Regions from separate parts of the Homo sapiens genome. Here region 2 is linked to region 1. Evidence: fine-mapped expression QTL. A gene starts in region 1. The other region holds a variant in brackets. All regions are shown on one strand. Distances are from middle to middle. Region 1 holds the start of SUSD6 (sushi domain containing 6). Region 2 overlaps SUSD6 (sushi domain containing 6).

The links. PIP is the estimated chance that this variant, and not a neighbour inherited with it, causes the effect.
Region 2: its variant is fine-mapped to the expression of SUSD6 in whole blood (INTERVAL, PIP 0.91).

What each region holds. Positions count from the first base shown.
Region 1 is chr14:69,602,116-69,618,266 of GRCh38, reverse strand. It overlaps SUSD6 (sushi domain containing 6), which reads right to left and starts at 6,671. Exons shown (of 6, transcript NM_014734.4): 1 at 6,439-6,671. RefSeq lists enhancers at 2,258-2,467, 2,738-2,787 and a silencer at 6,153-6,922.
Region 2 is chr14:69,688,077-69,704,227 of GRCh38, reverse strand. SUSD6 (sushi domain containing 6) reads right to left here. Exons shown (of 6, transcript NM_014734.4): 3 at 636-833. Among named protein-coding and RNA genes, the nearest start is that of SRSF5, 71 kb to the left of the region's middle. RefSeq lists silencers at 2,642-2,936, 15,622-15,916 and an enhancer at 9,693-9,742. The variant G/T (reference allele first, on the strand shown) is at 10,192.

The DNA.
Region 1 (16,151 bases):
CGTAATACACATAGACTGAAGGTAGTTTTGACTGTGACCTAAAACATGAGGTCAGGTGTGGAATTCTCCATCATGTGGGTGCTCAAAAAGTTTAAGATTTTGGAGCACTTCATATTTCAGGTTAGGGAAACTCAACCTGTGGTTCCAATTGGAACAAGGGCAAAAGGAGACATTCTGTTGCATTATTTCATTAATATGGTTGGCATGATGTAAAACCACACAGGGACACATCCTGTAGAGGAAATGACACTCCAAGCAGCACCATCTGCTCCTTTTTGTGTCTGGCATGATCTGTTTTTAACCTCGGGTTACACCTGAGGTCCACCTGGAAAAGCCCTGTGGGGGCTGCTCTAAAGAGCACTCTTTCTCAGATCTACATTTTCAGGGCACTCACAGACCCTCTCCCTCCTCCCTACCTTGCTGGCTGGCTCTCTGTTCAATAAGCATTCCACTCCCCAACCTAGCAGAAGCCTTTGAGCAGGTGCACAGAACCCTGGCATGGAATTTTTCACAAGAAAAGGAAAAGCTTCTGAGAACTATAAATCACATTTGATAAGGAAGGCTTTGGGGGTTCATGGTAAAGTCCTCTCTATAAAACACAAAGATGAGATTTAGAGCTGAGGCTTCGCATTGAAAATCCTCTTTATTTGTTTAAAGCAGCAGTACATGTGCATTGAATTTAGGCACTATCGCGTCTGTCAACTCTCACCAATGGTTAAAGTTCTGCACCAAATATTTGGAAACAATGCTACTGGAGAGTTCAAACTTAAAAACAGGATTCTCTCTTTTTGTTTTTGGGTTTTGGATTTTTTTTTGGTGGCACCTTTTCTTGATTCAGGGCAATATCCGCAACACCACAGTAGGATCAAGAGTTTACTAAAACACTGTTCTTCCTCAAACAAACTGCATAACCTAGGAGAATGTTAACCACAAAGTAGAGATATGGATGGATGCAGCTTTAAAGGTATCTCCTTGAGAAATGAAAACATATACCCACAGAAAAACTTATACACACGTTCTTAGCAATACTGCAATATTATTCATAACCAAAAAACAGAAACAACCCAACTGTCCATCAGCTGATGAATGGATAAACAAAATGTGGTATATCAATACAACAGAATAGCATTCAGCAATAAAATGGAATGAAGTACTGATACATGGTAAAACATGAATAAGCCTCAAAAACATTATGCTAAGTGAAAGAAGCCAGTTATTAAAGACCACATATCATATGATTCCATCTATATGAAATGTCCAAATAGGCAAACCTATATAGAGAGAAAGATGAGTGGTTGCCTAGGGCTAGGTGGGATTGTAGAGAAATAGGGAGTGACTTTTTGGGGTGATGAAAATGTTGCAAAATTAGATTATGGTGATAGATGTACAACTCTGTAAATATACTAAAAACCACTGAATTGTACTTTAAATGGGTGAATTTTATGACCTGTTAAAAAAAAAAGCTAAGTGAAAAAAATACAAAGCTGAATGTACAGGTACTACCATCTGAAGATGGAAAAAACAGAATACACATTATGTTAGGGTGGTAGAATCATGCTGATTTTTTTTCCCTTTTATTTTCCAAGCTATCTGTAATCTTGTGCCTCCCCACCAAAAAACATCTCTCAGTCTTCCTTCAAACAGTTTGCATAGACTGCTATAATTTAAAATGCAAATTAAGCAAAATCACCTTGTACCCTTTTTGCAGTTACCTTTTACAAGCCTCCGTCCACTTAGTTTGCTGAGCTCAACTGAGAACAATCTAAAGGAAGAATTGGATAAACAGGCTCTTATGCCATTCCCAGAAGCCAGTTTCATTTTACTGTCTTTGTCAGAAGCTGAAGCCTAGTCTAGTCAAAGAAAATTTCAGCAAGGACAGTTTACATAAAGGGCAATTCCACACTCTAATCTTAAATTTCTGTGGGTGAAGGCAAGTCACTGCTGGCAGTAGGTTGGACTTAGAAATATGAGACATTCCCTCTCCTCTACAAAGGGTAGCAAGAAAGGGGAGGCTGAGAAAGATCTCTATTTGTGTCCCTTCTCTGAGGTTTTGTATCCAATCTCCAACTGCAGAATCCTGAATCATTTTTCACCAGAGAAGATCCTCTTCTGAGTAATAAAGAATTGTCAGTCACCACCTCTGCCGTCTGCAAACCCACTGAGAATCTATTACTGTCATCAGGAATCCCAGGCTAACTTCCCTCAAATCAAGGAAGGAGGCTTTGCCAAAAAATAAAATAAAATAAAACACTTGTGTATGTGTGTAGGAGCGGGGAGTACATTTAGGGGCACACTGCTGTCAGGTAATTTTAAGGATCTACTAACACTGGCGACAGTAACAGGGAACTACATCTGTTTCTGTTTGAGAAAAATGCTTCAGTAATATCCTGTTTCAGGAGTACTGTGTGAATTCTTGGCACGCAGCCTTCAGATGTTTCAAGGGTGGCTATTTTCCTTTTTTGAGATAGAAGAGCCAGGGAGGGAGACTACATCACAGGCAACACCACAGTCTGTGAAATTAGTTTCAGTTCTCACTGCTGCACTTCCTGCTGTCGCTGTATCCAGTACCTTCACGGACGCTTAACTGTCCCAAGCCTTGACAGTAGTACAGTTGGCCTTTCACGGCTGAAGTGACCCAGCTCAGTGCCACTGCAAGGTCCACCAGTGGAGCGACTTCCACACTCAAGTAAGAACCAGAGGATGAGAGAGCAAATGGAGGCACCCTGCTGGTTTCCAGGCCAAAAAAAACTAAAAAGGGAAGAAAAAGGACACCATCGCAGACACATCAGCCCAAGAAGAACACAGGTGCCTAACAGGCTCTGCTGCGAAAACCTAAGCCTTGTAAGAGGCACCTTTCCCCAGAACTTGTACTTTTTAAGATGAAAGGTTCTTACACAGAAACACAAACTTACACTCATCCAAGGGACACACAATGGCTGTTGCCTTGAATCCAAGCCAGGGGTGGAGTGAACAGATCTTGACGCGCAAGGACAGTCCACCCAAAGGTTCCTGAGTACTATGGAGCTCGTGAGAAACCTGGGGAAAGAGTCTCTATTTCCCCTAGTTTTGCATTTGTCCCAAAGCTTACATTTAACCAAATGTCCTAATCCTCAACATTCAAGTCTGCAACAAAGCAATGTTTGCTCTCAAAGTTGAAAAGAAGACAAGACATGGGGCTCCCTCCTCTATTGGCTCCTTCTGATCTTTCTCCCACTGCTTGAGCGAACACCCTCTAACAAGACTTCCATAGTGTCCAGACAGAAAGAAGAGGGAAAATAAATCCTGCTTGTCAGCTTCAACTAGGAGATAGCATGTCATTTCAGGAGCTTAATAACTCACTTCATGTATGGCAATTACACAACCTGGGCCCAATGGATCTGCTGACATTCGGGCCTGCAAGTGTGAATTGTCTCTTAATAAATGGGGAACTAGAGGGGAAAGACAACCACGTGTGCCCTCTGGCCTTCCCTCTCTGCTGGCAAGTGGTTCTGCTTCATTCTCCACAGTTCACTTGTTTGGTACTGAAATGAGGAAGAGTATGTACCTCACTATTTTTTTTTAAAGATGCTGTATTTCTCCCAGCCTACAAATGATACCAGTAGTAACTTGGTTGTCAGAAGAGCTAAGGATATGAAAAAAGGGCAGAAGAAAATATTTGAAGCAAAAGCCAAGTTTTTATGTGGGAAATGGACAAGTGTGGAGGGAGTGAAACAATGCTTAGTAGCAATAAACTTGAAAGAAGTTCTAACTTTAAAGAAACCAGGTGAATTATTACCTTTTGGAAGGGGTGTGTGTGTGCATGTAGAGGGAAGGCTGCTGCAGGAATTGCTGCCCCACCAAAAGAGCAAAGGAGGACATCCCCTACTGAGAGATGCAACATTACATAAGAACACAAGTTCAGGCCGGGCACGGTGGCTCACGCCCGTAATCCCAACACTTTGGGAGGCCAAGACGGGCAGATCACCTGAGGTCAGGCGTTCGAGACCAGCCTAGCCAACATGGTAAAACCAAGTCTCTACTAAAAATACAAAAATTAGCCAGGCGTGATGACACGCACCTGTAGTCCCAGCTGCTCAGGAGGCTGAGGCAGAGAATCGTTTGAACCTGGGAGGTGAAGGTTGCAGTGAGCCGAGATCGTGCCACTGCACTCCAGCCCGGGTGACAGAGCGAGACTCCATCTCAAAAAAAATAAAAAATAAAAAAGAACACAAGTTCAATCACCACACCTCAGAGACTGACCAGGAAAACAGACAAAGTGCTGAGGTCTCTTTATCTGCCAGCCTGTATCTGTAACACCTCATTCTACCCTTCTTTCTCTTCTATCTCACCAAATTCTGGGCTTTCAGAAGGCAGGCTTCAGCGAAAGAAGTCAAACTTGCCCATTTGACAGTGGGTTTGCTCTCAGGGTTTAAACACTGAGCACCCTGGCACCTGTCTCTATCTAGGTGTAAGTGAGGATTTGTTTCATATGCCATTTCTACTACAGTATCCAAAAAATTACTCTGCAGACAGGAAGTCCTATCTATCAGGACTCATACCAATACTGTCCTCTGTTTAACTCGCTGGGCAGAAGTTCCTTCAGCAGCAAATGGCCAGCAATGAAAGCTAACAACATAAACCAAAACAAATGGACTTAAAGGCTGTGAGTCCATGAGAGCTGGATTCTGACTTATTCAATGCAGTACCTGCAATACCTAGCACAGTGCCTGGCATACATTCGGTATCACATAACTACTTGGGAGTACTGAATGAAAGAATGAACAAATGAATCTTATGCAAACATACCGTAAGTGTGTACCCAGGAGAAAGAGTTTAGAATGCTCATGATCTGAGAAACAGCCTGAAGCAGCAGTGCTTTCAGAAGGTTTTAGAAAGACTCCAGGTTCAATTTTATCAAAAGGTAAACAAACCAGAAACTAGCAGTATAATCTAGTAGTTCAGACTGTGGGCTCCACCATGAGATACCTATGTGACATGGGCGAGTTATTTAACTTGTTTGGTTTGGGTCTCAACTAGAAGAATGGGGATAATAATATCTACATCAAAAGTCTGTTATTAAATGAGTTCAAAAAAGTAAAGCCCTTAGCACAAAGGTTGGTACTCAGTAAGTCCTCAAGAACCTTTCCATATTATTGCTGCTTAAATACCTTCTTTCCTGAGATGTAGACATACCTCCCCCAACTCCAGGAAAATTTTAATTTCTGGTTGAATATGCTTCTAGCTAAAAACACAAAACCCAGAGAACTCAGAAGTCAGTGCCAAGCACATGTCTCTACTAGCCTCCACTAGATGGTGACAGTTTGGGTGTGGAATTCCCAAAACAGAAAAGGTGTGTGTGCGTAACTCCTATGTATGTTTTTACACCAGAGGAACGAAAACAGCAAGAAATGAATTAACTACTGTGAAGGAAAGACATACTTCCCATCTCTGTAGATCAAAAAAGGGAGTAAATCCCTAGGCCTAATTGAACTGAGTAATCTTACTGCACCTCTGGAAGAGCACACAGGAGCCCAGTTAGCGAGAGCAACAAAGCCCAGCATGTCGCCTGCCACTGAAAGAAAATTCTGTGGGAACAACAGCTTTAGGCCTCCTTGCCCAGACGCCAACTTCCCTTTAACCAGCCCAAGACTTTATTTTGACGCCTCTTTGCTCCTGGGTCTTGCTGTCCCCATAACCACCTCCCCCTCCTGCTCCTAAATTCGTCCAGGGTAACTTTTCTCCACTTCAGCAGCTCCCCAGCCACGACTCCCATGAGGGAGAGTCAGATCCACACTCATAGCTGGGGTCTCAAAACCAAGCGAAAAAAGGAAAGTCTGTATGTACGTGCCTACTTTTTGAAAGAAAATAGCTGGTTTCGGGGAGTTTAGCCTGGTTAATAAGAGAAGTTTTTGAGATTAAAGAGCAGCCGAGGCGCGGGGGCTCCCGAATGCCGCGGTGCGCACAGGCGGGCTCTGAGATTTCCTCAGGAAATCCACCTTCTCTAAGCCAGCCCTGCCCCAGCGCAAGCCCCGCAGCTTTGCTGGGCTGAGGGCAGTAATGACAGTGGCACAGAGGGCCTCTGCCTACCTCCTCTGCACCCATCGGCACGGCGTCTGGCTCTTCCGGTGCTGCCCGGGCAGCGACGCGGGACGGCGCGCCCCGGACCGCGGGTCACCAAGTTCCCGGCCGCAAACCAGCCGCCGGTCCCCCCGGCCGCGCAGCCCCCACTGCTGGCCGGCTGGCCGCGCCACGCCAGCGCGGGGCTCCCAGCGGCGCGGCTCGCGGCCGGGTGACAGCGGGCCGGCGCAGAGAAGCGCGGGGAGCCGCCGAAGCCGGCCCGGGCTCCGGCCAGCGTCACTCCTGGGCGGTGCGCGCTGGTCCCGCGCCCCTGACAGCCGGCCGAGCGCGTCGATGGCACAATGCCGGCCCCGCCGCCCCCGGGCCGCGGTGACAACTCACCCGGGAGCCGGCGGAGACCTCCGGGATGGGGGCGCTCACAGCTTCCACGCCGCCGCTTGCGCGCGCCCGCAGTCTTCTCGGGTCTAGGCGAGGCCCCGCGTGCCCTTGTCTAGCTCGCTCTGGCCGGCGCTGTGGGCAGAGGAAGCGGGCGGGAGGGAGGGAGGAGGTGGGGCGGTCGCCGGCTTCGGAGAATAGAACGCGGCGGTAGCGACGGCTGCAGCGCCCGCGTCACTGACCCAGCTGTACCGCGCGGGCGGGGGAGGCCCCGCGGAGGGGAGGGGGCGGGGAAGGGGCGGGAAAGGGGCAGGGCCAGGCGCGCACGCAACGGCGCCGGCGTCGCGCCGCCGCGACCGCCCCGCCGGGAGGCCCTGCACGCACGCGCCGCCGGCCGGGCCAGGTACCCAAGGGAGAAGCGACGCGGTTGGGGAGGTGGGGGGTCCTTAAAGAGACAGTCCCTCTGCGCTGGAGTGGATGGGGCGGTGGCACCGACTCAGCTGGACTATGCGGCGTTTCCAGTGCGCTCTCCAGTTCGTTTACTATTATTATTATTTGCATGATTGAATTACTATTATTTGCAAAGAATTGTACTGCCCTGAGGTTTACAAGGCTTTTGGCGCATGTTGCCTTGTTAGCTCTTGAATTGCTCGTCTGACCTAGCTCGTCTGAAGCAGGTTATTATCTCCCTGTTAAGCAGTAATCCGAACTGTGGTTCCTAGCCTGCCAACATTAAAGCTGCCCGGGGGGTGGGTGGGGGTGAAAATGCAGATTCGGGGCCCCGAATGACCTCCAGCCATTGTGATTCAGTGGGGTCGGACTTGGGAATCTGTATTTTCACTAGCATTCTGAAGTGAGTGATCCTTCAGCATACTAAAAGCACACAAGGGATCTCAAGGTTGAGAAAACCGCAGTTCAGAGCCAGGACTGGCAGAGCCCGGGCTAGAAGCCTGCCACATTCCTAACTGTATTTCCCCTCTTGAGCCTTGCCTTCTGGGGCTATTTTCTAGCACATACTGAGTGAGCAGTTTGTGCACTGTATGGCTACATCGTTTATTGGTGATCTCTCATGCAGTGTGTCCTCGGTTTATGTGTTTACAGGGCCCGTGGCGCCTTGATGGGGAGGACTCTGGCTTTTTATCTTTGTACCCCAGGGCCTTGCACCGTGTCGGTCTCAGAGGTCCTCCATAAGTGTTAAGGAACTCCTACTTGTAAATCAGTGGTAGAGTCCACATCTGGACCTACAGACTTGTGTCTTTGCTGCAGCTTGGGTCAGGCAGGCCTCTTCTCCCAGATGCTCTTGGACAAAAGGATACACCTTCTCAGGGCCTCTCACCAGGCCTAGTTCTAGTAGGCTTTCGGGAAAAGCACTGTGAATTAACAGGGCATGTCCTTGTGAAGTAGCTTGAACCAAATAAACAGGATGCTCCTCCCCATGCACACAGACCCATCCCCAAAAGAACCCTTCCCTTCTGGGCCCCACAGCAACCTGTGGCTCGTTGCTATAATGCCTTTTTCATAAGTCTATCCTTGTTCTGCCTTCTTTCTTCCTTGCCTTCTTGGGTCCAGACTCATTAGAGAAGATGGGCACCCCTCCCTTCCTGCTCATTTGGGGCCACACTGCCCAGACCACTAGAAGATTGAAAAGCACAATTCAGAACTACCTGGGTCTGCCTCAGAGCACAACCAAATCAGTGTGGGCAGCAGGAACATGCCAGGCAGACCCAAGGCTCAGGGAGGGGACAAGGGGGAAGGAAGCAAGGGAAAGGGATGGAGGAAGAATTGGAGAAGATGAATGGAGGAAGGAGAAAAAGAAAGAAAGGAAAGGGAAGAAAGCAGGCATGGATGGTTCAGGTCAGATCAACTGCCAAAGTAACTGAGCCCCTGGCTGTGCACTGAAGTCAGTTTGGCCATTAAGAGGCTCAGTAACTTCATACAAGAACTGCCACCTTATAAAATCCCTTGTGAGACCCTATGCAGATCTGTCCATCACTACCCAAAAATCCTCAGTCGGGCGCGGTAGCTCACGCCTGTAATCCCAGCACTTTGGGAGGCTAAGGCAGGCAGATCACGAAGTCAGGAGTTTGAGACCAGCCTGGACAACATGGCGAAACCCCTTCTCTACTAAAAATACAAAAATTAGCCAGGCGTGGTGGCACATGCCTGTAATCCTAGCTATTCAGGAGCCTGAGGCAGGAGAATTGCTTGAACTCAGGAAGCAGAGGTTGCAGTGAGCCGAGATCGTGCCATTGCATTCCAGCCTGGGTGACAGAGTGAGACTGTCTCAAAAAAAAAAAATCCTCTCCCAGACCTTCAGGGTCCACAGAATGAACTCAAAGTCATCAGCAAGGACTGTAGTATCCTGTGCTGTCCACAGTCCGGCCCAAATGCTCTCCATCCCTCCACACACCCCACTCCAGCCTCCCCATACCACCTGCTGGTCTCTAACAAGCCATTCCTGTCACAAACCAGGTGCCCATGCTGTTTCCTCAATCTTGAAGGCCTTCTCTACTTACCCTTCAGAATCTTCCCAAGGCTGCTGCTTCTACTTTTCTGTGGCACTTTGGTTGAGCCCCAAAGTGCCACAGAAAAGTATTAAATTAAAATTTTTAAACATTTTAAATATTTAATTATTTATTTATTTATTTTGACGGAGTCTTGCTCTGTCGCCCAGGCTGGAGTGCAGTGGCATGATCTGAGCTCACTGCAACCTCCGCCTCCCGGGTTCAGGGGATTCTCCTGCCTCAGTCTCCCGAGTAGCTGGGTTACAGCTGGGATTAGCTTCCATTTCCTTCTGCTTTGAATTGCCAGAATCAGGGTCAAGTCTCCTCCCTTTATAAATGTCAGCTCACCAGCCTTTCCTGTCTTCTCATCCCCTCCTATCTGAAGTTCCACTGGCCTCTTCAGTACAGCTGACGAAAAGCCCCTGTTACATTCTACGTATAGGCCTTGCTCTTCTCACCCGCAAAATGGAATGGTACTTCCTGGCCTGGGGTGAATATTATCTTTCTGCCATTGAAAAGATCTCACAAGATGAAGGTTAAGAATAATTTAGACTTAGACATTCTCAAGTGGGAGGGATCATAGATTTTTTTAAATAAAATTCTTTAAAATTTTTAAGATTTTTTTTTAATTTAACAGCTTTCTCACACCTGTAACCCCAGCATTTTGGGAAGCTGAGGCAGGCTGATCATTTGAGGCCAGAAGTTCAAGACCAGCCTGGCCAACATGGCAAAACCTCGTCTCTACTAAAAATATAAAAATTAGCCTGGCGTGGTGGTGCACGCCTGTAATCCCAGCTATGTGGGAGGCTAGTCACAAGAATTGCTTGAACCTGGGAGGCAGAGGCTGCAATGAGCTGAGATTGCGCCACTGCACTCCAGCCTGGGCGACAGAGTGAGACTGTGTCTTAAATAAATTAATTAATTAATTAACAGCTTTATTGAGATATTCACATACCAGCAATTCACAGTTTAAATTTGTATTTATTTTGTATAACTTTACAAATTGTACAAATTTGCACATGTACAATTGTACATTTAGAGTGAACAATTCAATGGTTTTTAGTATATTTACAGAGTCGTACAATATTTTAGAACATTTTCATGACCCTAAAAAAAACTCCCATACCCATCAGCAGTCACTACCATTTCCTCCCTCCCTACCACCTTCCCTGCCTCCCTCCCTAGGCAACCAACAATCTACTTTCTGTCTCTATAGATTTGCCTATTCTGAGCACTCTCTATAAATAGAATCATACAAATATGTGGCCTTTATAATTGATTTTTTGTTTCTTCCACCTAACAATCAATTTTAAACCAGAGCTAATTTTTTATTTTCACTTTTCAATTCAGACCCTGCCTTATTCTAAAAGGACTTAAGATGGCTCTTTGAGCTAATATTCCTGGGTCCTTCCAGATTTCCAGCATAAATCTTTTTTTTTTTTTTTTTTTTGACGGAGTCTTGCTCTGTCGCCCAGGCTGGAGTGCAGTGGCATGATCTGAGCTCACTGCAACCTCCGCCTCCCAGGTTCAGGGGATTCTCCTGTCTCAGTCTCCCGAGTAGCTGGGACTATAGGTGCGTACCCCCACACCCAGCTAATTTTTGTATTTTTAGTAGAGACAGGGTTTCACCACGTTAGCCAGGCTGGTCTCAAACTCCTGACCTCAGTGATCAGCCTGCTTCTGCCTCCCAAAGTGCTAGGATTACAGGCGTGAGTCACCACACCTGGCCAATTTCCAGCACAAATCTTAATATTCTGCTCTAAATCTAGGTGCTGGAATATGGCATGGGGGTTAGATTAGTCCCAGTTGGTGGTGAGTAGAATAGCCAGCCATCCCAGTTTGCCTGGGACTAAGGGGATTCCTGGCACATGGGACTTCCAGTGCCAAAATTAGGACAGTCCTGGGCCAATCAGGATGAGGTAGTCACTCCTATGATAAGAGTCAGGAGGCACAGTATTCCTTTCATCTCCCAGGAATATAACAAGGAGTGTGTGCCTTTACTGCTTGCAGGGCAGGACAGAGGAGTTTGGCTCTCTGAAAGTGAGAGAAAAGGTTCAGAATAAGTACATGGAATCTCAGTTGCTATGGTTATTACATACAATAGTAGTAATGACAGCTACTATTTACAAAGCACCTACTGTATGTCAGGTGCTTGGTAGGGACTTGATACGTGTAACCTCTAATTTTGGCAACAGTCCTCCAAGTTAATTATCATTAACACCATTTTACAAGCAAGGCTTAGAGAGATTTTTTTTTTTGACATATCAAAACCACATAAGTATGTATGTTGCAAAAGCAGAATTCATTCTTGTTTGTCTGTTCCAAAGGTCACACTTTCCCAAATAAACCATGTGCTTCCTCCCACCCCTAATAAAAATAGCAAATAAAGATTGAAATTGTCCTCATATATCTCTTGCTTTTTAAAAAAGTGCTTTTTTGCATACCAGCTAGTTTTTTACAACATCCCCATAAAACGAAGAGACATTATTGTCCCCAATTTTACCTATAAGGAAGTTGAGGCACTGAAAGGTTGCTAGCTTGTCTGATCTCATATAGAAATTAGCATGAGTTTCATGTTTTGATTCAAGATTCCTTGGGCAGCTTTCAAAGCCCTGTGAAGGTAAACCCATTTGACCCCAGAGGAGGTGGAAGGTGAGGCCACCCTCACCGCAGAATGTCAGAGTCCAAAATGGGTGGGCTGTACAGGGCTAGGCCAACAGGAGCTGAGAAGCAACTCCCACTCCAGAGGAGGAAGATCTAGGCTCAGGAGGTTATCTGAATTTGTGAGCCTGCACCATCACCAGGGGCAACCCTTCTTGCAGCTTGTCAGGAGCCTGTGAGAGCCAGGCTTGGTGACGCAATCCCTGCAGGCCACTGGTCGGAGGGAGCTTTGTAGAGGTCAGAGTTCAGGGCTTAGATCTGGGCTATTCACAGCAGCAGCTATGATTCCCTATCCACCCCAACTCTGACCCTAGCCTTAGAAAATGTGCACTTGAGGCTGCCCAATTAGCAGATACATATAAGAGGGCAACCCAGCCCCACCTGCTTTTCTGAAGCATGTCTTTGACAACATTCTTTCCCTAATACAGGTCAGGTTAACTGGTAAAAGTGTTGGCCCCATTTTTCACACAAGGAAAAGCCAAGGTAGAAAGGGAGCATCCACCTGCTATGTCTCCAGATGGTATCCCAGTGGAAGATGAATGAATATCAGATCCCCCCCACCCCTGGTGCCAACCAGCCTGATGACCTGCTGCTTGCCCTTTGCCCAAGGGCTGGGCAGTGACTCTAGGAGACAATCTGCAGGGAGGAAGGAAGGGACTGGGGATAGCCTAGGGCCTGAGGCCTTTCTAGACAGAGCCAGCCCACAAACCCCTCCCACATACACACACACACACACACACACACACATATACACACACACACACCTACACACACACACAGCTCCTGGTCATTGGACACTGTATTCCCTCCCTGATGGTTCATTTTCATGTGATTTAATGGTGAGAAGACAGAGCTATATGATTGGCCTTGCTAGCTCTGAGCTGCCAGTGCATAGAGGAATGGAGTTGCTCCCTCCTTCAGACTGTCTGGGGAGGCAGGGATAGGGCTGTGAAGCTCTGGCAGACACAACACCTCAGAAGGTTCTTGGCTCCAGGACTTGTTGGCTGGATCAGTAGGGTCAGTCCCTCTTTTGGCTGGCCAGGGACCTTCAAAATCAGGGTATTTTGATACCTCCAAAATCAGGGTATTTTGAAGGTGCTGATGATGGACCCCAAGGTGCAGCTTTGCCCCCAGGCATGTCAATGAATCCCCTGAAAAAAGCTCCAATACATTAAATATGTACTGTCTGCCAGATACTTTGCTAGTGGCTCCACATACATGATTTTATTTAATCCTTGCAATAGCCTCTGAAATAGGTATTAATACTATTATCTTCATTTTGCATATGAGGAAACTGAGGTACATAAAGTTTAAAGATGAGGCCAAGGCCACAGTTACTAGTAGCATGTCCTGCTTCTTAGGGAATACAGCTGTAATTTGCACTGTAAAAACCAAATGTGATTTTTAAAGGGGGACCAGAGCAGGTTACCTGCAGTGGTGTGCTGAAGAGTGCTCAAACTGTCAAGAATCAATTCTAAAATGTTCAAGATTTTTGTAAGCTAGTTGTTAAACACAGCCTTTGTTAAAAATTAAATTATGGCCAGTAGCAGTGGCTCACGCCTGTAATCCCAGCACTTTGGGAGGCCAAAGCAGGAGGATCACTTGAGCTCAGAAGTTTGAGACCAGCCTGGGCAACAGAGTGAGACCTCTTTACAAAAAATACAAAAATTAGCCAGGCATGGTGGCACACGCCTGTGGTCCCAGCTACTCAGGAGGCTGAGGTGGGAGGATTATTTGAGCTCGGGAGGTCAGGACTAAAGTAAGCTGTGATTGTGCCACTACACTCCAGCTTAGGTGACAGAGCAAGACTCTGTCTCAAAAAAAACCAAAAAAATTAAAAATTAAAAAAATTAAATTATATATATGTAAAATTAAATTATAGTTGTTAAAGTAATAAATACTCAAGTTACCACTTCCTAATTATTAATTATTTTACTACATTGTATTTTTTTACTTTTTCTGCCTCCCTTCTCTTACATTATACTCTTATCTATGCTTTCAAGTTTATTTACATCTCTTATGAAGTACTACATCATATTATGCCACTTCTCATCTCTTCTCAACTCCACATTCAGTGACATCACATTGATAGTTTGAAATCAGATACAGTGGAAGTATTTACACCACAGAAATTACTAAATATAAATCAGCTCCCACCTATAGAACAAGTTGCTAAACATTTACAATTGAAATGTGAAACATTTACATCTGGAAAACTGAAAGCTTCCAGCACCAGGGTCTGTAGCAGTAGTGGAGGAGGTGAACCCAGGGCTAGCTGAGCTCACCAGCAGAGCCAGCAGGGTTAGTGGGTGCAGGGCACATGTGGAGTATCTCTAGGAGGCAGCCAGACCCCATAGTCTCCATTTTACAGGGAAGGTGAGTTCTGAGGCCAGGTGAGAAATGTTTGATGCCTCAAAAGTGTGTCGGTTCCAGCTGGGTGCAGTGGCTCATGCCTGTAATCCCAGCACTTTGGGAGGCCAAGGCGGGCGGATCACCTGAGGTCGGGAGTTCAAGACCAGCCTGACCAATATGGAGAAACCCCATCTCTGCTAAAAATACAAAATTGGCCGGGCATGGTAGCACATGCCTGTAATTCCAGCTACTTGGGAGGCTGAGGCAGGAGAATGGGTTGAACCTGGGAGGCGGAGTTTGCAGTGAGCCGAGATCATGCCATTGCACTCCAGCCTGGGCGAAGAGCGAAACTCTGTCTGAAAAAAAAAAAAAGTGTGTCGGTTCTATTTGAGATGCACTCCACCTAGATGCACCATAAAGATTTCTTACTTTCCATATCCCCCAATAGAGTATGTTCTCCAGTTACCAAGGGAGATGGAGGGACAGGAACCTGAGAGGAAGCCTGCCTGGAAGAAGGGGGCTGCTGGTCCTCAGTCCCTTGTGAATGCCCAGCCTCTAGTGGTGGGATTAAGAATGCAGCCTCTGCCCTCCAACCTTAGGTCAAGACGCTCAACCAGAGTCTCCCTCCACAGAGTACCATCATGGCATTTCCCAGCACAGAGCACAGGACAGCTGGGACAATCCTTGTGGGACAAATGGACGATGGACAGAAGCATCTGCTTCCAACAGGAGGGTCTCAACCATCCCCTTAGAACCTATGCCCCCTTTGGATAGTATTTTATGACATCCCCCATTCCACTACCATGAAATGAAAATCATAGCATAATCTGCCTACACACATAATTGCAAAAAATAAATGCATGCATAGGTTCACCAAAAGACACGTACAAGAATGTTCACAGCATCATTATTCATAATGGCCAGACACTAGAAACAACACAAATGGATATGGTATGTCCACATGATGAAAACGAACAAACTTCTGCCAGGCACGGTGGGCACAGTGGCTCATGCCTGTAATCCCAGCATTCTGAGAGGCCAAGGCGGGCAGATCACTTGAGGTTAGGAGTTTGAGACCAGCCTGGTCAACATAGTGAGACCCCGTCTCTACTAAAAATTCAAAAATTAGCGGGGCATGGTGGCGGATGCCTGTAGTCCCAGCTACTCGGGAGGCTGTGGCAGGAGAATCGCTTGAACCTGGGAGGCGGAGGTGGCAGGGAGACGAGATCGCGCCACTGCACTCCAGCCTGGGAGACAGTGAGACTCTGTCTCAAAAAAAAAAAGAAAATGAACAAACTTCCAATTCACACAACAACATGGATGAATCTCACAAATACGATTTTGGCTGAAAGAAGTCAGACATGAAAAAAGCATGCATGTATGTTTCCATTATATCAAGTTCAAAGGTAGGCAAAATTAATTTAAGGTGTTAGAAGTAAGGAGAGTAGTTACCTAGAGGAGTTGTGACTGGGTGGCACCATGAGTTGGACTTCCAGGGTATTGAGAGTGTTCTGGTTATGAAGGTGTGTTCATTTTGCAAAAATTCATAGAGGTGTACTCATAAGATTTGTCCACTTTTTTGAAGTATGTAGTTATTCAATAAAAAGTTTACTTAAAAAAAAACAATCAATCAATACAATGCCCTAACTGTAATATAAAAAAGAAAAGGCCGCTTGCACCTAGAGTCAATTCATAGCAATTACAAATGCAGACAGATGTAGGTGTGTGATTTTAGTGATGCAAATGCCTTCAACAATGTCGCTATTATGTTCTGATATGTTCAGCTCTTGGTAAAATGCTGAAAAATAAAGCACATTTTTCCTGTAGTTGTATTCTTTTTCTTTCTTTTTTTTTTTTTTTTTCTGAGACGGAGCCTCACTCTGTTGCCCAGGCTGGAGTGCAGTGGTGCCATCTCGGCTCACTGCAACCCCTGCCTCCTAAGTTCAAGCAATTCTCCTGCCTCAGCTTCCCAAGTAGCTGGGATTACAGGTACCTGCCACCACAACCGGCTAATTTTTGTATTTTTAGTAGAGACAGGGTTTTGCCATGTTAGCCAGGCTGGTCTCAAACTCCTGACCTCAAGTGATCTGCTCGCCTCAGCCTCCCAAAGTGCTGGGATTACAGGTGTGAGCCACCACGCCCAGCCCCTGTAGTTGTATTCTGATCATTATAACAGGGTTTTTTGTTTGTTTATTTATTTGT
Region 2 (16,151 bases), 86 kb before region 1:
CTATGTTCTTCCCAAGTGGCAGGATTAATTTACAGAAACTGGACTGTAATAAAACCTTGTCTTAAGATCCACAGCTTTAATTGTAACTCTCAGGTTGGTTCCCACCCATTTCTGGGGTGTCATGGGTTAAACATGCTCTGGTCTTGAAGCCTGAGTGGGAAGCACAAAGATGGTTATATGACACACTTTCCTGCAAGCAGGTGGATTTTCCTGTCATGCAAGACAGGAGGAAGCAGTAAGGGTGGGAGGTCTTTTGTCCAGCTGGTCTGTAGCTCCATTCAAGGAAAAATGAAATGGACGATACATTAGAGAAGGTATTAGCATTGTGCTCACTGTGAGGGCAGAACATGGTCAAGGGTCACCAACACTTGGCCATGCAAACAAGAGATCCTGAACATCAAACGGGCTTTACAGAGCAGGGCAGATGGCTCAATGAAATGCAATAGGACATGCACCAGCAACCTCAAGTATCTTCCACAAAGACATGAAGACCCAAGGAAGGGAGGCTGCAGAGCATCAACTGGGGCTGGGCTGCACCACAGCAAAGAGTGCTCTGGAGGAAGCATGCTTTGCATCCTGTGAGTTAACAGAAAGCAGAACCCCAGCAGCATCCCTTTTTCATCTGCCAGACTGACCCTCGTTGAGACGGCAGCTAATCTCCATGGCTGGTTTCCACTCGCCATTCTTACACGTCAGGTATTTGTAATCGCCCTTCAACATGTAGCCTTCAGCACACAGGTATTCGATGACACTGCCTGCTGTCAGGGGGTCTCTGCAGGGCCGGGGGTGGCAGATGTAGCCACCATTCTCTGGCTCCGGTGGTAGGGGGCACACTGCAAAGACAGGGAGAGAGCAGGGGTACAGTGGTGAGGTATCCAGTAGGAGTCTGCTCTCAGTGACGCAGCTCTGAAGGCCTCTACAGGAAACACAGGAGGAGGAAATAACCCTTTCCTTGGAGGAACTGTTAACCAAACCCTGGAAACTCAGGTTGCCACTGACAGAGGGGAAGTATACTGGCAACAGGGGAAGTGGCTGCTTGCAACATTTCCCCCTCCCTCCCCACCATGCCTTAAGAGAATTCCATCCATAAATGAACGGCAGACTCTAAAGTCTTGAACCTATAGAGATCTAGACATAATAGTTTTAATAAAGCCTGTATTATGTAATAAAGCCTGTAACACACATAATAAATCACAGTGAAAGGAGGAAAAATGTTGGCCTTGTTTCCACTATCAATGTCAGAAAAGACTCTATTGTATAATAAAAACGTGCACTCTTGGCCTGAGAGGGGATTTCTGATAGATTCCCTGGGAGGCTTCCCAAACCCCCTGTGCATCTTCCATTCTCTGACTATAGTAGTCAATGGCACCACCTGTCTCTATCCCATGATAAATTCCACATTTTCCACTGATATACAGGACTGCCTAGTTTCAAAAGCACCTTCACCTCCCGCCTTATTTGTCCTGACAACTCTGTGAGACAGCTATCGTTACTCTCCTTTGAAGAAGAAGACACTGAGGGCCACAAAAGTTAAGTGACTTTTAGCCAAGCTTACAGCAAGGTAAATGGCAGGCTTGGGGTCACAGTCAAATCTTCTGATTCTAAACCTCTGCTCTTTCCACCAGCAGACATTGCTTCTACCCCATGAGCTGCATGGCCTTTAAGGGGTATGGGTGTCAAGGTTACCTCCCCTTTGCCCTCTTGAAACTGGTCAGTTAGGGAGATGGCAGGCAGTGCCTAGGTATGGTGGGAACCCTGGTAAGTTGCAGTAATGGTAAGTCAGAGGATCTGGAAGGTCTGAGTGGACCTGAGGAGGAAAAGGACAACCTCTGATTCCACTCTGGACTGACACTGCAAAACTGAAGACCCCAGGTGGTGGACTGCCGGGTATTACCAGCCAAAACAGTAAAAGTGGGGGCACTACAGAATCACTGTTTGGAATGTTGGGCTGAGGTAGAATGGCCAGGCAACCATGAATGCAATAAAGACCAAAAGTTTTCCAAAGGAAATTCAATTTTGCTGACAAATAACCTGCCCCCATCCTGAATATCACAAGGACATCTGTATGAGAATAAGAACGGTCGTTTTCTTTTTCTCATTTCCTCTGACAGGCCTGGAGTGACTGAGAGTCACACCACAGTGCCTGACTGTCCAAGATAAGGCAGTTTCTCATCCACGAGAGGGGCAGACCACACCACCCTGCAGCTGTGCCCTCACAGCCTCTCTCACCCATGCCTCTTCTTTCCAATCTACAAATGGCTGTTAAGCAAGCTGACTGCCAGCCAGGTTGGGGAGTGGACACCAAATGGAAAAGAGATGATGGCTCCCTACCCTCAATTTGCTTATCACTTGAGATGGGGAGAAAAGGCACTTTTTCTTTTCTTTTTTTAGGTGATGCCACTAAAAAAAAGATGCCATTTTTAAAAAGCTATTAACAAAACAAAGCTGGGTAGGTGCCACAGGGATCCAGAGAAGTCTGGCAGCTTCTCTGAAACTAGGAGATGAGCTCCAGTAAGCTCCCCCCAAGTCCCCTCTAAGGACCCAACTTGTCCCTATTCTCCTCCACCACCAGAGTCTTGAACAGGAGAAAGAAAAACGCAAACACTCCTTCTGGTGCTCTTTAACTTTGGCCAAGTAGTTCAGAGCGCTGGCCAGCTAGATTTCCAAAGAAACCTCCGCAAACTGCTTTAGCCTTTACACTTTCCCTCTTTTGTTCAGGGCAGCAGGCCTGCCACAGATCTCCCTGACTTACTCCCTGGCTCTCCTTGGACTGTGTCTAATTGGTTCATTTCCGTGGCATAATTAATGCTGAGCACCCCATGGCAGCTCCTGAAAGCAGGCAGGACCCACACACAAGTCCAATGTGCTGGGAAGGACAGTCTCAGGGGAAGAGCTGCTGATTCTAAAGCCACTCCTGCTTTGCTGGGTATCTCTTTCCATAAAACCCACATCTCCACAGAATCTTTGAGCGGGATCCTGGCGGTCACCTAGCACTCATAATAAGTCAAAAAAAAAAAAAAGTGAGGACTGCAAAGAAGTGACTTGTAATTCAGTTTAATTTCAATTCAACTAATACTTACTGATTCTGAGTAGGGGGTCACTGTGCTATGCTCTGAAAAAGGACAAAAATATAAGCACCTCAGGTCCTTCTTGCCAAATAGGGATATGACCATTAAGTGCACACATATATTTAAAAAATCATTCTCTTTATGGCTTCTGGATTAAGGACTCTTTCTCTACTCTGAGTTTATAAACATACTCTCCAGTATTTTCTTGTAATGCTTTAGGGATTAGGTTTTTGTTATCTAAAATACTTTTACAAAACAAAACAAAACAAAAAAAACAGACTCATGGGAAATATACAAGGTATTAAATTCAAAAAGGGTGCACAGTGTCCCGTCACTGGGTTCCTCTTTCCAGAGTCACTGCACCAGTTTCTACCATATTCTTCCAAAGATACTCTATATACAAATTTATTCTAACACATGTCAAATAATGTGATTTGTGCCACAAGAGAGGAAGTTCAAAGCAGGAATAGGGGAGCCTAGGAAAGGATCTCCGAGGAAGTAGCACTTCAGATGGGGCTTCACTTCATCAGGAAGGGAGGTCATAGTTTGAAGTAAATGCACTGAAGTGGGAAAATGTAGGTTAACTTCTGAGAACAGCAAGCAGCCCAGTTTGGCTGGGTTGAGTAATTTTTTAAAAGTCCAAAAAAATAACATGAAGAGTGATGAAACCATCTTGTAGAGGACCTTCCTTACAAAAGGAGATATTTATAATTATAGTCAAAGAAAAGGGGGAGCCGCTGAAGGTTCTTGAGAAGGGTAGCATTATAAGAAAAGCAAATTTATAATTTGATATAAGATGGACTAGAGGTAGGAGAGACCCCTTAGATTATGTCAACATTATAGCAATCCTAGTATTGATACAGGAGCTAGAAAGAAATTATTTAGGCAGATAGTGACGGCAAAAGAGTCCTCAGCAAGGTTTCCCTTTTAAGGAAAAGCAGCCTCAAAATCATTTCTTTTCTAACAAAGAGCAGCCTGAAAAATCGAGCTGCATAGATAAGCAAGCTGGAAGCTTGCACAGGTGAATGCCAGCAGCTGTGCCAATAGAAAAGGGCCACCTGGAAGCCAGGTGTGTTCAGAGTGGAGGCTCCATGTTCCCTTTTCTTTGTCACCACGTGTACAGTAAGGACCAGGCAACATGGTGCCCACCAGGTAGAGAACCCATCTGCATAATAAAAGATTAGGGTGGGACGGCCAGCTATTTCACAACTATGCAAATGGCACACATGGTCCAACCAATCTTTCGTCCCCTATGTAAATGGTCTCCTCAAGCTCATCTATAAAACCTTCTTCATTTAACTGCAGAAGTGCAACCCATTTTCTCTGGGACCCCTCTCTGTGCAGAGAGCTCTTCTCTTTCGCCTATTAAACTTCCACTCTTAACCTCACTCTGGTGTGTCTGCATCCTAATTTTCCATGGCTGTGGGACAATGAACCTCAGATATTACCCCAGACAACAACACCGCTTCAGTATGGCAAAATAAACTCAGTACAAAAATTATTTTATGCCCATCTATGAAGGTCATAGAAAAGAAAAAAGCTGAAGTATGTCATAAGATGCTCCAGGTTCAAAGAAGAAATAAGGATGCCTAAGAAGAAAGGGTCCAAAAAAAAAAAAAAGGCAAGTCATTTTAAGACACTAAGAACATGTGAAAAGGCTGGGTACAGTGGCTCACGCCTACAATCCCAGCGCTTTGGGAGGTCAAGGTGGGCGGATCACTTGAGGTCAGGAGTTCGAGACCAGCGTGGTCAACACGGTGAATCCCCATCTCTACTACAAATACAAAAATTAGCCAGGTGTGGTGATGCACACCTCTAGACCCAGCTACTCAGGAGGCTGAGGCACAAGAATTGCTTGAACCCATGAGGCAGAGGTTGCAGTGAGCTGAGATTGCACCACTGCACTCCAGCCTGGGCGACAAAGTGAGACTCTGTTTAAAAAAAGAAAAGAAAAGAAAAGAAAAAGAACACATGAAAAAATATGATCCTCTTGACCAAGAGCAGAGTCCTGGCCAACAGCAGGTGTTGAAGAGGACCCTCTCAGTGATGCCTGGGAAGAACACTAAAAAAAGGCAAAACCCACATGGCAAAGAAATTGTTCAGTGGCTTCCAGAAGCCACAGTCTAGGCAAGAAACTGTCTTGATCTGTGCACCAGGATCATTCTCTGACAATTCCAGGTTCGCAGAAGGAAGCTCTGTACTTAACTCTGGGAAGACAATGAACTCACCTGATGTGGCAGTGCCACATAATTTTAAAAAGAAAAGGAGAAAGCCAGACAATTTTACAGGGGGAAAAAAAATCAATGAATTATCTTTAGCTTCCTCTCTGCTTTCCATTCTGTCCCACAGCCACATAGGCTTTCAGTGAGCACAGGGAGTGCACACAGTAGGCATTCAGTCAAAGTCCACCCTGGTAACAATGCAGATGAGACGCAAAATGATCTAGCTGATACTTCCACCACCTCCGTCGCCTCAGCCTGACACCCTCAGCAGAAACTAACTGCTGAGGACCCTCACCAGCCTTTCTAAAGGTTCCCTGGTTTTGTTGGTTTTGCAGGCCAACCTTTCAGAAGGAGGCAAATTAAAACAAAACAAACTTTTACAACATTCCAAAACAAGCAAAGCAAAATAAGCTCCAGGAAAGGCCCCAGGGGTCAAAGCATTCAATTTAACAAACAGAACAAATACTTGAGCTCCTTCAAAACAAGGTGTGGAAAGCAGGGAATATAAAGATCAGTGTGACATGCATGCAGCCTCAAAGGGATTAGGGTTGAGTAGGAGAAGGTTACATTTAAATTATCTATAGTGCATTTTTTGTTTGTTTGTTTGTGATGAGTCTCGCCCTGTCCCCTGTCACCCAGGCTGGAGTGCAGTGGCAATCTCAGCTCACTGCAACCTCTGCCTCATGGGTTCAAGCGATTCTCCTGCCTCAGCCTCCTGAGTAGCTGGGACTACAGGCGTGTGCCACCACACCCGGCTAACTTTTGTATTTTTAGTAGAGACAGGGTTTCACCATGTTGACCAGGCTGGTCTCGAACTCCTGACCTCAAGTGATCTGCCCGCCTCGGCCTCCCAAAGTGTTGGGATTACAGGCGTGAGCCAGCGCATCCAGCCCCTTTACTTTCCTAATCAACTTGCTATCACTTTACTCTATGGACTTCCCTAAATTATTTCTTGTGTGAGATCCAAGAATCCTCTGTTGGGGTCTGGATCTGGACCTCTTTCCGGTAACAGAACCATGCCCCCACTACAAGCCTACAACCTAGAGAAGACAGACATGGTCACAGCCAACTCTACCCTAAACCAATGAAGTAAGTGTTAAATGTGACACAAGCTGCTCAAATATGAGCTTTTCTAATAGCCTGGGGTGTCCTTCTGGCTAGGTGATCATTCATCGGCACCCAGGGAGGGTAAGAGCCTGAGGCAAAGAAGAAAAAGAGTAGAAACTAAGGAGAGGAGGAAGGAATGGATGGAAATCACAAACCTAGCACAAAGCTGTCCAACAGAAATATAACATGGCCACAGATGTAATTTAAAATGTTCTAGTAGCCAATTAGGAAGATAAATGGAAACAGGTGAAATTAATCTTAATATTTTATTTAACCCAACATATGAAAAAATATGTTGACTGATTACATCTCAACATGGAGTCAACATAAAAATTCACTAATGAGATACTTTATATTCTTTTTCTCATAGTAGTCTGTACACTTATATAAGAGGCATCTGAATGACAGCGACTCCATCTTGAATAGGGGCTGAGTAAAATGAGGCTGAGATCTACTGGGCTGCATTCCCAGGAGGTTAGGCATGGCATTCTAAATCATAGGATGAGATAGGAGGTCACAAGATACATGTCACAAAAGACCACACCAATAAAACAGGTTGGGCAGAGAAGTCGACCAAAACCCACCAAAACCAAGATGGTGACGAAAGTGACCTCCGGTGTCCTCACTGCTCATTATATGCTAATTATAATGCAGTAGCATGCTAAAAGACACTCCCCCACCATAGCCATGACAGTTCACAAATGCCACGGCTACATAGGAAGTCACCCTATATGGTCTGAAAAGGGGAGGAACCCTCAGTTCCAGGAATTCCCACCCCTTTCCTGGAAATCTAATGAATAATCCACCTCTTGTTTAGCATATAATCAAGAAATAACTATAAATACACTCAGCCGAGTAGCCCATGCCACACTGCTCTGTCTATACTGTCTATACAGCAGCCATTCTTTTATTCCTTTACTCTCTTCATAAACTTGCTTTCACTTTACTCTGTGGACTCGCCCTGAATTCTTTCTTGTGGAAGATCCAAGGACCCTCTCCTGGGGTCTGAATCTGGACCCCTTTCCGGTTACACTTATAGCACACCTCAACTCAGACTAAACACATTTCAAGTTCTCAGTCACCACATGCAGCCACCTAGTAGTGGCTATTGTAGTGGACAGCACAGTCTCAGTGAAGGAGTCCTTGGCCAGCAGTCAGGACAGGTCTGGGGATCTGAAAACAGTGGAAAAGGTTCAGAACCACACGACAGGGCATGAAATGTGAGGCTGAAGATGTGGAAAGAAGGAGGCATTTAGCACTAAGGGTCTCTTAAAGTTATTTAGAAAAGCACTATTTATGTGCTTGCTCTCAAAACCCTTTCTTATATATAAAGGTTATATTTCTACTTCTAGCCTTCAATGGTTTGTAGAAGCAAAGAGATCCAGAGAAAAAGCAAGGTCAATACAGAGAACAAAGGTGTTTAAATGTATAGTTCTGTTTGTTTTGGAATAAGGAAAACAGTAATTATTGCAAACAGATAGTTTATTACCTGTGCCAAGTACTCTTCTGGGTTCTCTCTCTACATGAAGCAGGTACTATATTTTCTCCACTTTACAGATAAGGACAATAAGGCTTAACTGAGTTGAGTGATCTGCCTCAAGCCACACATTTGTAATTGGCAGGGCTGGATTCACCAGGAACTCTGGCTTCTAAGCTGCAAGCCTGACCACTCAGTTAAGCCGGGGCCTGCTGAGGGGGGCAGGGCATCAGGAAACCTGCCAGGTTCTGTTTTGTGGCTCATTTCCCCATTTGATGTGCTCAGCCTATGGCTTTGGAGACATCCAGCTACTTCGTACAGCATATAAAAGAAAGAGTTATACCCAGTATGAACAGCCTTTTTCAAAGGGGAGGTGATTCCCCTAAAGAAAGCCTCCCAGGCAAGTTGGAATTAGAGCATTCCAGACAAATACAAAGAAGAAAAAACAAGTGATGACATCTGATATGGTCAAAAGGTTTCTTCTGAAGCCTCCTAATAACAACAGCTTGTGTTCACTGACTACAGGCCAGGCACTATCTGAGCACTTTACATATGTAACTCATTTAAGTTTCACAAAAAACCCTCTAGAAACATAACAATGCATTACACAGATGAGCCAGGGGTTGAGATACTTGCTCAATTTCACCCAGCAGGTGGGTGGCACAGTTAGGATTTGAACCCCAGAAGGCTGTATTCCCATTCCACAGCACTGGGCAGTATCAGAGGGTCTCGGAGTCAGGCTTCTCTCACACCCATAATCTGTCAAGGGAGCCACAGATGGCAGAGTCCAGTGACAAGGACAAACTGGGTACTGCCCGTAGACTCTGGGCCTCAGTTTCAATACATGAAGGCAATGAACCAGATCACCTCTGAGATCTCTTCTGACATTTGCAAATTTGTCTAAAGTTGGCGGGCCTCACTACCTCTCCAAGGTTCCTTCGCAAAAGTCCTGCAACCATTGTGGTTTTGGATACAGCACAAGGTGTGAGGGGCTAGAGATCATCCTGTCCATGCAGAAATTCCTGCATTGGGACAGATTCCTGCTGTGGACTTGTGGTGAGAGCCGGAAAACAGGCAGGAGTCCCACTACTTAAGAGATACCTGGGGCTGCTCTGGTCCATGGCTCTGCCCAGCCTTCTGGCTTCCCGATCCCGCCAAATAGTCAAGTCTAAAACAGGCTGCAGTGAGAGGGAAGTGAGATGGTTTCTCATGCCATTTGCAACCTTCCTCTCCTATGAGACAAATCTTCCTAGCAGTCAGACAGGAAGCCTATTGTCCAGTCAGGATCCCTTTTCTCATGAGAACTTCCCACTCACTGGGGGAGAGCCAGCCTGCAGTAGCTCAAGCCTTTTTCAGGGTGTGGCACCAGAGCTGGGGTGGGAGAACACAGGGAGAAACCACCCATGGCTCAGGATACCTCCTGTGGCTCTTCTCGGGCCCCCACCACTGCCTTCCTAAGAGAGGCTCAACCTAAGCCCTCCTCGGAAGATCAGCAACTGACAGGTGGGACAGGCCTCGGACCTGTCCATCTTGTTTTAGGCCTGGGCCCCTCACTTCCTCCCCCTCACAGGAGAGGGAAAATGCCAGCCAGAGGCCTCAGAGCCAACAAGCACTTTCTTTTACTGCACCCTGCCTCAAACATAAAAACTCCTGTCACCTGGAGTTTTCATGTTTGAGGCACAGCGTTCAATAAAAGAAAGTGCTTTTAGTGGCACCTAAGCCTCTAAAGTCCTTAGTCATTCAGTCAAAAGTACTGTTTCTCTCCCAGCCTAGAAACCCTGAACTGAAAGCACATGCAGTCAGCTGGAACCCCACCCATCTCCAAGGTTCCAAGGCCACCTTCCCAGGCATGGCCAGAGAGAAACAATGAGCAGCACAGGGTGGAGCTTACCAGCTTGGGCTGAGACTTCACGGCCTGGGGTTGCACACTGCTCCAACAGTTACCCACTGGGTAGTCCTGGGGAGATCTTCCTATTCCTCAGTTTCCTCATTTTTAACATGGGGATTCAAAAGGTTAATCACAACTATGCAGGTAAAGTACCTGGTAATGGGTCTGTCACATACTAAGTGTTCAATAACAGCAGCTTTATTATTCCTCCTCTGGGTTCCCATTACATCATCTTCACTCCTATTTGTAACCTATCACCATGTTGTAGTCTCTGCAGGTTTTCTCACAGGTTGGTCCTTCCTCCATTTCCCCAATAACCACCAACCCACACATCTAAGCCATAGGGCAGAGACTTGTTCTGCTCATTTTTGTATCCCTAGTACCTGACAAATAATCCAGGAGATAGTAGATGCTTAGTAGAAAACCAAC[G/T]TGACTTGCAAAATTTTGTCCTTATTTCAAAACACTGTCTTGTTTTCAACTGCAATGAGCCACAATGATTTTTGATTTGAGATGAGTCAATAACAGACAACGGCAAAGAGCATCCCTCTCCAGGGTACAATTTGTATTCTCCAAATTGGTACCTAACTGTGAAAATACACTGCCTACCTAACAGGACCAGAGCCACATGGAGTAAGAGCATAGTCTTGGGGGTCAGACAGATGAATCTGGGTTTGACCCAGGGGCCTGCTCTGCAGCCTTGTCAACTGTCATAACTCCTCTGAGCCTTAGTCCTTAGCAGCCAATATCCAGCTCCACAGGTTTTTTTAGAAGACTAACAAAACTGCATACTTGAAAGGGTCTTGTATCATGCCTGGCACATTACTAGGCACTGATAAATTTTCATGTAGCAAACTAAACCCTTATCTCTGATTTTTGGAATGGGCAAAGGCTTTGGTAAAAAGAAAAAGGATTATTTCAGAAATTTCTGGATATTTGGAGAGGGGGCAGGCAGAAAACAGAGCAGGATAAGCACTTTGGGGGGTGTTGTTTGCTCTCTCCTTGTTCCAGTTCAGTAATAAGCCGGCTCCTTTTTCACTTCCCGTTCTCGACAATACAGCCCAGGCTGCTCTTGGCTGACAAATGGACTCCATATGGCCTGTTACCCTTTCACCTCCTCTTGTTCTTGCAGCTCAGGGACCCAGGGAAACAGGCTGCCAGCTGGGGCTGGGAACCCCTCCCCCTCCCACTGTTACCACTGCTACAAGGAGGGGCAGGCCAGAGGACCATTCTCCTTTATCCTGCTGCTCCAGGTACAGGGCTAGCCCACTCAGTGCCCAAAGCCACTACCACTGCTATAGGTCAGTACAGTGACCTATAGAGCAGAGCCCACAGCTGTCTCCTACCTCCACCTCCAGATGGTGGGATGACAATGGAGGTAGGGAGCCAGGCTATTCCACGTGTATTAGCAAGTGTTACTGTTTCCCTTGACAGTGGCAGTTAAAGGCTTAAGAAAAAGCAGAGAATGCTTATTTTTTCCTCATCAGCCATTGTCACTTCTTGTTCTCATCTCCTTCACCATATCACCTACCTGAGCTAAAATATGTGTTTGCTCTCCCCTCTCAGAATTCCTCATCTCCCAGAGGAGATGACTGGTCCTCTCAGGAAAGGCCCAGATGGCTGTTTACGGCAGCTCAGAAGGAAAGCTGATGAGCAGGTGATAACTGACTTAGGAGTCTGGCTTAGAGTTTAAAACAGGGTTGGACTCTTGGGTACAAAGGCCAAAATTGTGGTTTCATTTCCAATCCTACCAGCTAATGGTAACTCCTAATGCCAAGTACAGTCCCAGGCATACACAGCAGGGCCTCAAGAAACACACAATCAAATTTAAAACAAATTTAATGATCTCTGTTGCCAAAAGGATACAAGTAAGGAAGAGAATTAACATTTATCACCAGGCACTGCACTGGTACTTTAAAAGTGTTATCCTATTAAATTCTTCCACCCTAGGAAGAAGGTGGTATAAAACTTGATTTGTTCAGAAAAAACTGAGGCTCTGAAAAATTTAGTAATGGACTGAGGTCACCTGGATTCTAAGTACTAGAGTCTGCATTCAAATTCTGGCTGGCCCTTCTACAAGGAAGCTTCTTGATTTTTTCTGATGCCACCAGAAAAAAATTTACCCCAAGACCTACAAAGTATAACATAGGGGTGGGATACATATGGACAAAAGCTGCTATAATTCCTGTTTGGAGAAGAATATGGCCTGGTGAGTTTAGTTGTGCCCAGAGGACTCAGTTCATATCTCAGGTGGGGCCACATTTTTCCAGAGAAGTGGAGGGAAAAGGCAGGACAGTTTCCTTCACTAATTTCTGTGTACTACACACAATGGAGCTATTTAAGGATCACAGACAGCAAAGTTGCAAGTGGGAGAAGATATGTAGGCATTTTCAGCTGAGAACACATGACTTCTTTTTTTTTTTTTTTTTTGAGACGGAGTCTCACTCTGTCACCCAAGCTGGAGTGCAGTGGCATGATCTCAGCTCACTGCAACCTCCGCCTCCCGGGTTCAAGCAATTCTCCTGCCTCAGCCTCCTGAGTAGCTGGGACTACAGGTGTGTGCCACCACACCGGGCTAATTTTTGTATTTTCGGTAGAGACAGGTTTCACCATGTTGGCTAGGCTGGTCTTGAACACCTGACCTCAGGTAATCCACCCGCCTCAGCCTCCCAAAGTACTGGGATTACAGGCGTGAGCCACCAAGCCTGGCTGAGAACACAAGACTTCTAAGACGGATATGTGAAAGGAAGGTTGTCACTAAATGCAGAATGGGGATGTGACCTGGAATTAGAGGGCTACCTTTCTGCCACTGCCCAGAACACACAGGGCCACTGGGTTATCACTGCCAAAGCCTGAAATAAACAGCCTCTGCCACATACTCCCAAACAGGGGGTCAGGTAGTGTGCTGATTCTCTTAGGCACTCAACAGGCCACTGCTACTCACAAAGGCCTAGACAACCGCAAAGAAAGAAAGGAAACACCAGTAAACTCTAGTTATGGATGGTAACAGAAATCCACTGAGGCAATGGCCCCAAATCAGCAAAACACCATAGGTCTTTGAGAAACACCAGCAGTTGAGGGGTGGAGGTCTGAATGGGTTTTTTGTCGCTGTTGTTTTGAGATAGAGTTTTGCTCTGTTGCCCAGGCTGGTGTCTAGTGGCACGATCTTGTCTTGGCTCACTGCAACCTCTGCCTTCTCCCAGGTTGAAGCAATTCTCATGCCTCAGCCTCTTGTGTAGCTGGGATTACAGGTGCACACCACCAAGTCCGGCTAATTTTTTGTATTTTTAGTAAGGACAGGGTTTCGCCATGTTGCCTGGGCTGGTCTTGAACTCCTGACCTCAGGTGATGCACCTGCTTCAACCTCCCAAAGTGCTAGGTAGGATTACAGATGTGAGCCACTGCACCCAGCCCTGAATGGTCTTTTCTGAAGAAAGAGATGTGACTGGGTCTAAGGCATACCATGAAGTGAGCCCTGTACATTCTGGGGGGTGGGGTCCCACCATGAGACAGGGACTACAAATACAAAAGAGACAATAAAAGGTGTGTGGTTTTTTGGTGCGGGGGGAGAAGGCTGGACGAAGCCACAAGTCTCATCTCTATTGCCTCTAAACCAACAAGCCTAAGGAACTCTGTACTCACTGTGCACAGGCAGGTGGAGCGGAAGTTACCAAGTCCATTGACCTGGATATTCTTCCTCCTTCATCTTGTGCGGGATGAGATTCTCTGTTTTGAACAATCTTAAATCACAAAATTTTAAACCACCTTCTCCCAAATGACCACCACGGGAAAAGCAGTTTGCCATGCCTTCTTGGTTTCCTTTGCACTTCTCCAGAGGGGAACTTTCACCAACTGATTCTGGACAGTGAGGAGTCAAATCCCCCTAGGAGTTCTCTTCTTCACTACTTTGAACTTTTGCATCTTGCTCAGCATACCGTGCTCCTGGAAGATCCCTCTGCTCCTCTTACAAGCTTTCTCTTTGAATCCTTCCCACATGCTTTTCTCTGAGGAAGCCACATTTAAGCCTCTTTAAGGATCTTTAAAAACAACAGGAATGCATTCAAGCCTGCTGCAAAGTCCAAAGAAGGATGGATGCCTGGCCCTGAAGGTCTAGGACTGGCCTTTGATGTTAGCCTGTGTACATATTGGTCTGGCTCTAGTAAAACAAAACAACCTCAAAATAGTGAAACTTGGGCCTAAACTAGCTAACAGTCAGGAGTAGAGTCTCAACCATGCTTATTTATCAGGGTGAGGACCATGCCCCTGTCACCTGTCATGGCCTCTTTGGCTCTTTGGACCCTAGTCTCTCGCAAGCCACTTTTGACTGACCAGTCTGAGATGCCCAGTCAGAAGACAATGCCTCGGACAGCCTCACACACACTGCATGTTGGTAGATAACTATGTCTAAATGCCACATTGATGTACAGAAAATACCTTTAATCTCTTGTCCTCCAGACAGCAGGTTTAATAACTAATAACTTTCACTCAAAAGAGAGTAAAAAAACACGGGCATGGTGTCTTAGGCCTGTAATCCCAGCACTTTGGGAGACCAAGACAGGCGGATCACTTGAGGCCAGGAGATCGAGATCAGCCTGGCCAACATGGTAAAACCTTGTATCCACCAAAAATACAAAAATTAGCCAGGCAACGTGGCACACACCTGTAATTCCAGCTACTCGGGAGGGCTTGTCATGAGAATTGCTTGAAGCCAGGAGGTGGAGGCTTCAGTAAGTGGACATCATGCCACTGCACTCCAGCCTGGTGAGAGCGAGACTCCATCTCAAAAAATTAAACAAATTTTTAAAAGTATTTACAAGTGTTGATTCTTATTCTCTCCAGGTTTCACTTTCCTAACAAATTCCTTCATTAATTTAACAAATTTCTATTAAGCACTATGTGTTAGGCTGCTGCTAGAAATTCAAGGGCAAATAATACACATGGTGTGCCCTTGAGGAGACTTCAGTCTCTTTGGGAATACAGATAAGGAGCCCCAACAAGATTAAAATAATAGTAATATCTACTGCTTCTCTTCCAGAATCCATGTAAGGATTATATTTACCCATTCATTCTTTTTTTCTCTTCCCTCAGCTTAATTCTGCCATTCATTTTTTCAACAAGTTTTTACTAAGTACCAAAAGCACTGTGGCAGGTGAAGGTAGGCAGGTGGAAAGATAAAAAGATATTGGTCCTACACTCTAGGAGCTTTCTAATAAACGACTATAATAGATATATGTTAGAAATCAATATGGGCTACAGAAAGTTCTGAAGAAGGATTAATCCAATGGGGAAGAGACCAAAGAAGATTGTAGAAATGGTATCAGAGCTCCAACTTCACGGGAAGTAGGATCATGAGTACGGGATAAAGGATTATGACGGGGATAAAGGAGAGTGGGAAGAACATGGTGGGGGACATAAAGGCACAAACAAAGGCAGAGAATCAAGAAGAGGTGGTATGTGTACGGAGAAGTTAGCAAATGTTTCCAGGTTTAGCAGGAGATAACTGAACATTTAGAAAATCAGGCTGGTGCCAGAAGAGGGTAGGCCCTGAATGCAAGGCTAAAGAATGTGGAATCTTGGGTTCCTCTTCCATGAGATGAGATTTTAAGGACACTTCTAGGCCTATAATGCAAAGCCATGTTATTCATAATAAAATGAAAGCCTGCTAAATAGTACCAATCCCACTGAAGAAGCTGCCCATATAAGTCTGCCTACATCCCCTGGAAACTATTTTCCAATGGGCTGGATGTGCTGACAGGGTGGAGTGGGGAAAGGGGAAGAAAACGGAAAATCCATTGCGAGTTTTCCAGTGCAGATTCATCATGCTTCTCAAGTTTGCCTAGGTGAGAGGGGACAGGAAAGAACTAAAGGGGCTGGAGCACACAGAAAAGGAATACAAAGATATCTTGTGGTCAGTTTCTTTTCCAGGGTTCTCTCACATGGCAGCAGATGGCCTATCCCTGGAGGACTGGATCCAGAAAGCAGCTGCTCCCAGGTCCTGGTTCTAACAGCTGGGGTCACAGGTCCTCTATGCACAAGCTGAATGCCAGAAATCAATGGGTCCCATTGTGCCTGCATGCATGCATGAGCTCTCACGTCCAGGCTCATGCTCTATAACTGCCTAGAACAGAGGACTGGGAAAAATAACACTACACACTTTGAAGGACTACATTTGCAAACTAATGGAAAGATAAGAGTATTATACAATCCAATTTTATTCAAATTACCTTGACTTTGCTAGGTAGCTACTAAGATGCTAATTATTTGGGAGATAGAGGGTCAAGAGGGAGGTGGAAGAGGAACAGAAGTAGGGCAGATCATAATCAGAAGCTAATCAGTAAATACATCTAGTCTTCTTCTTTCTGCCCAATGCAGAGAGGAGTCTGGCTCTACCA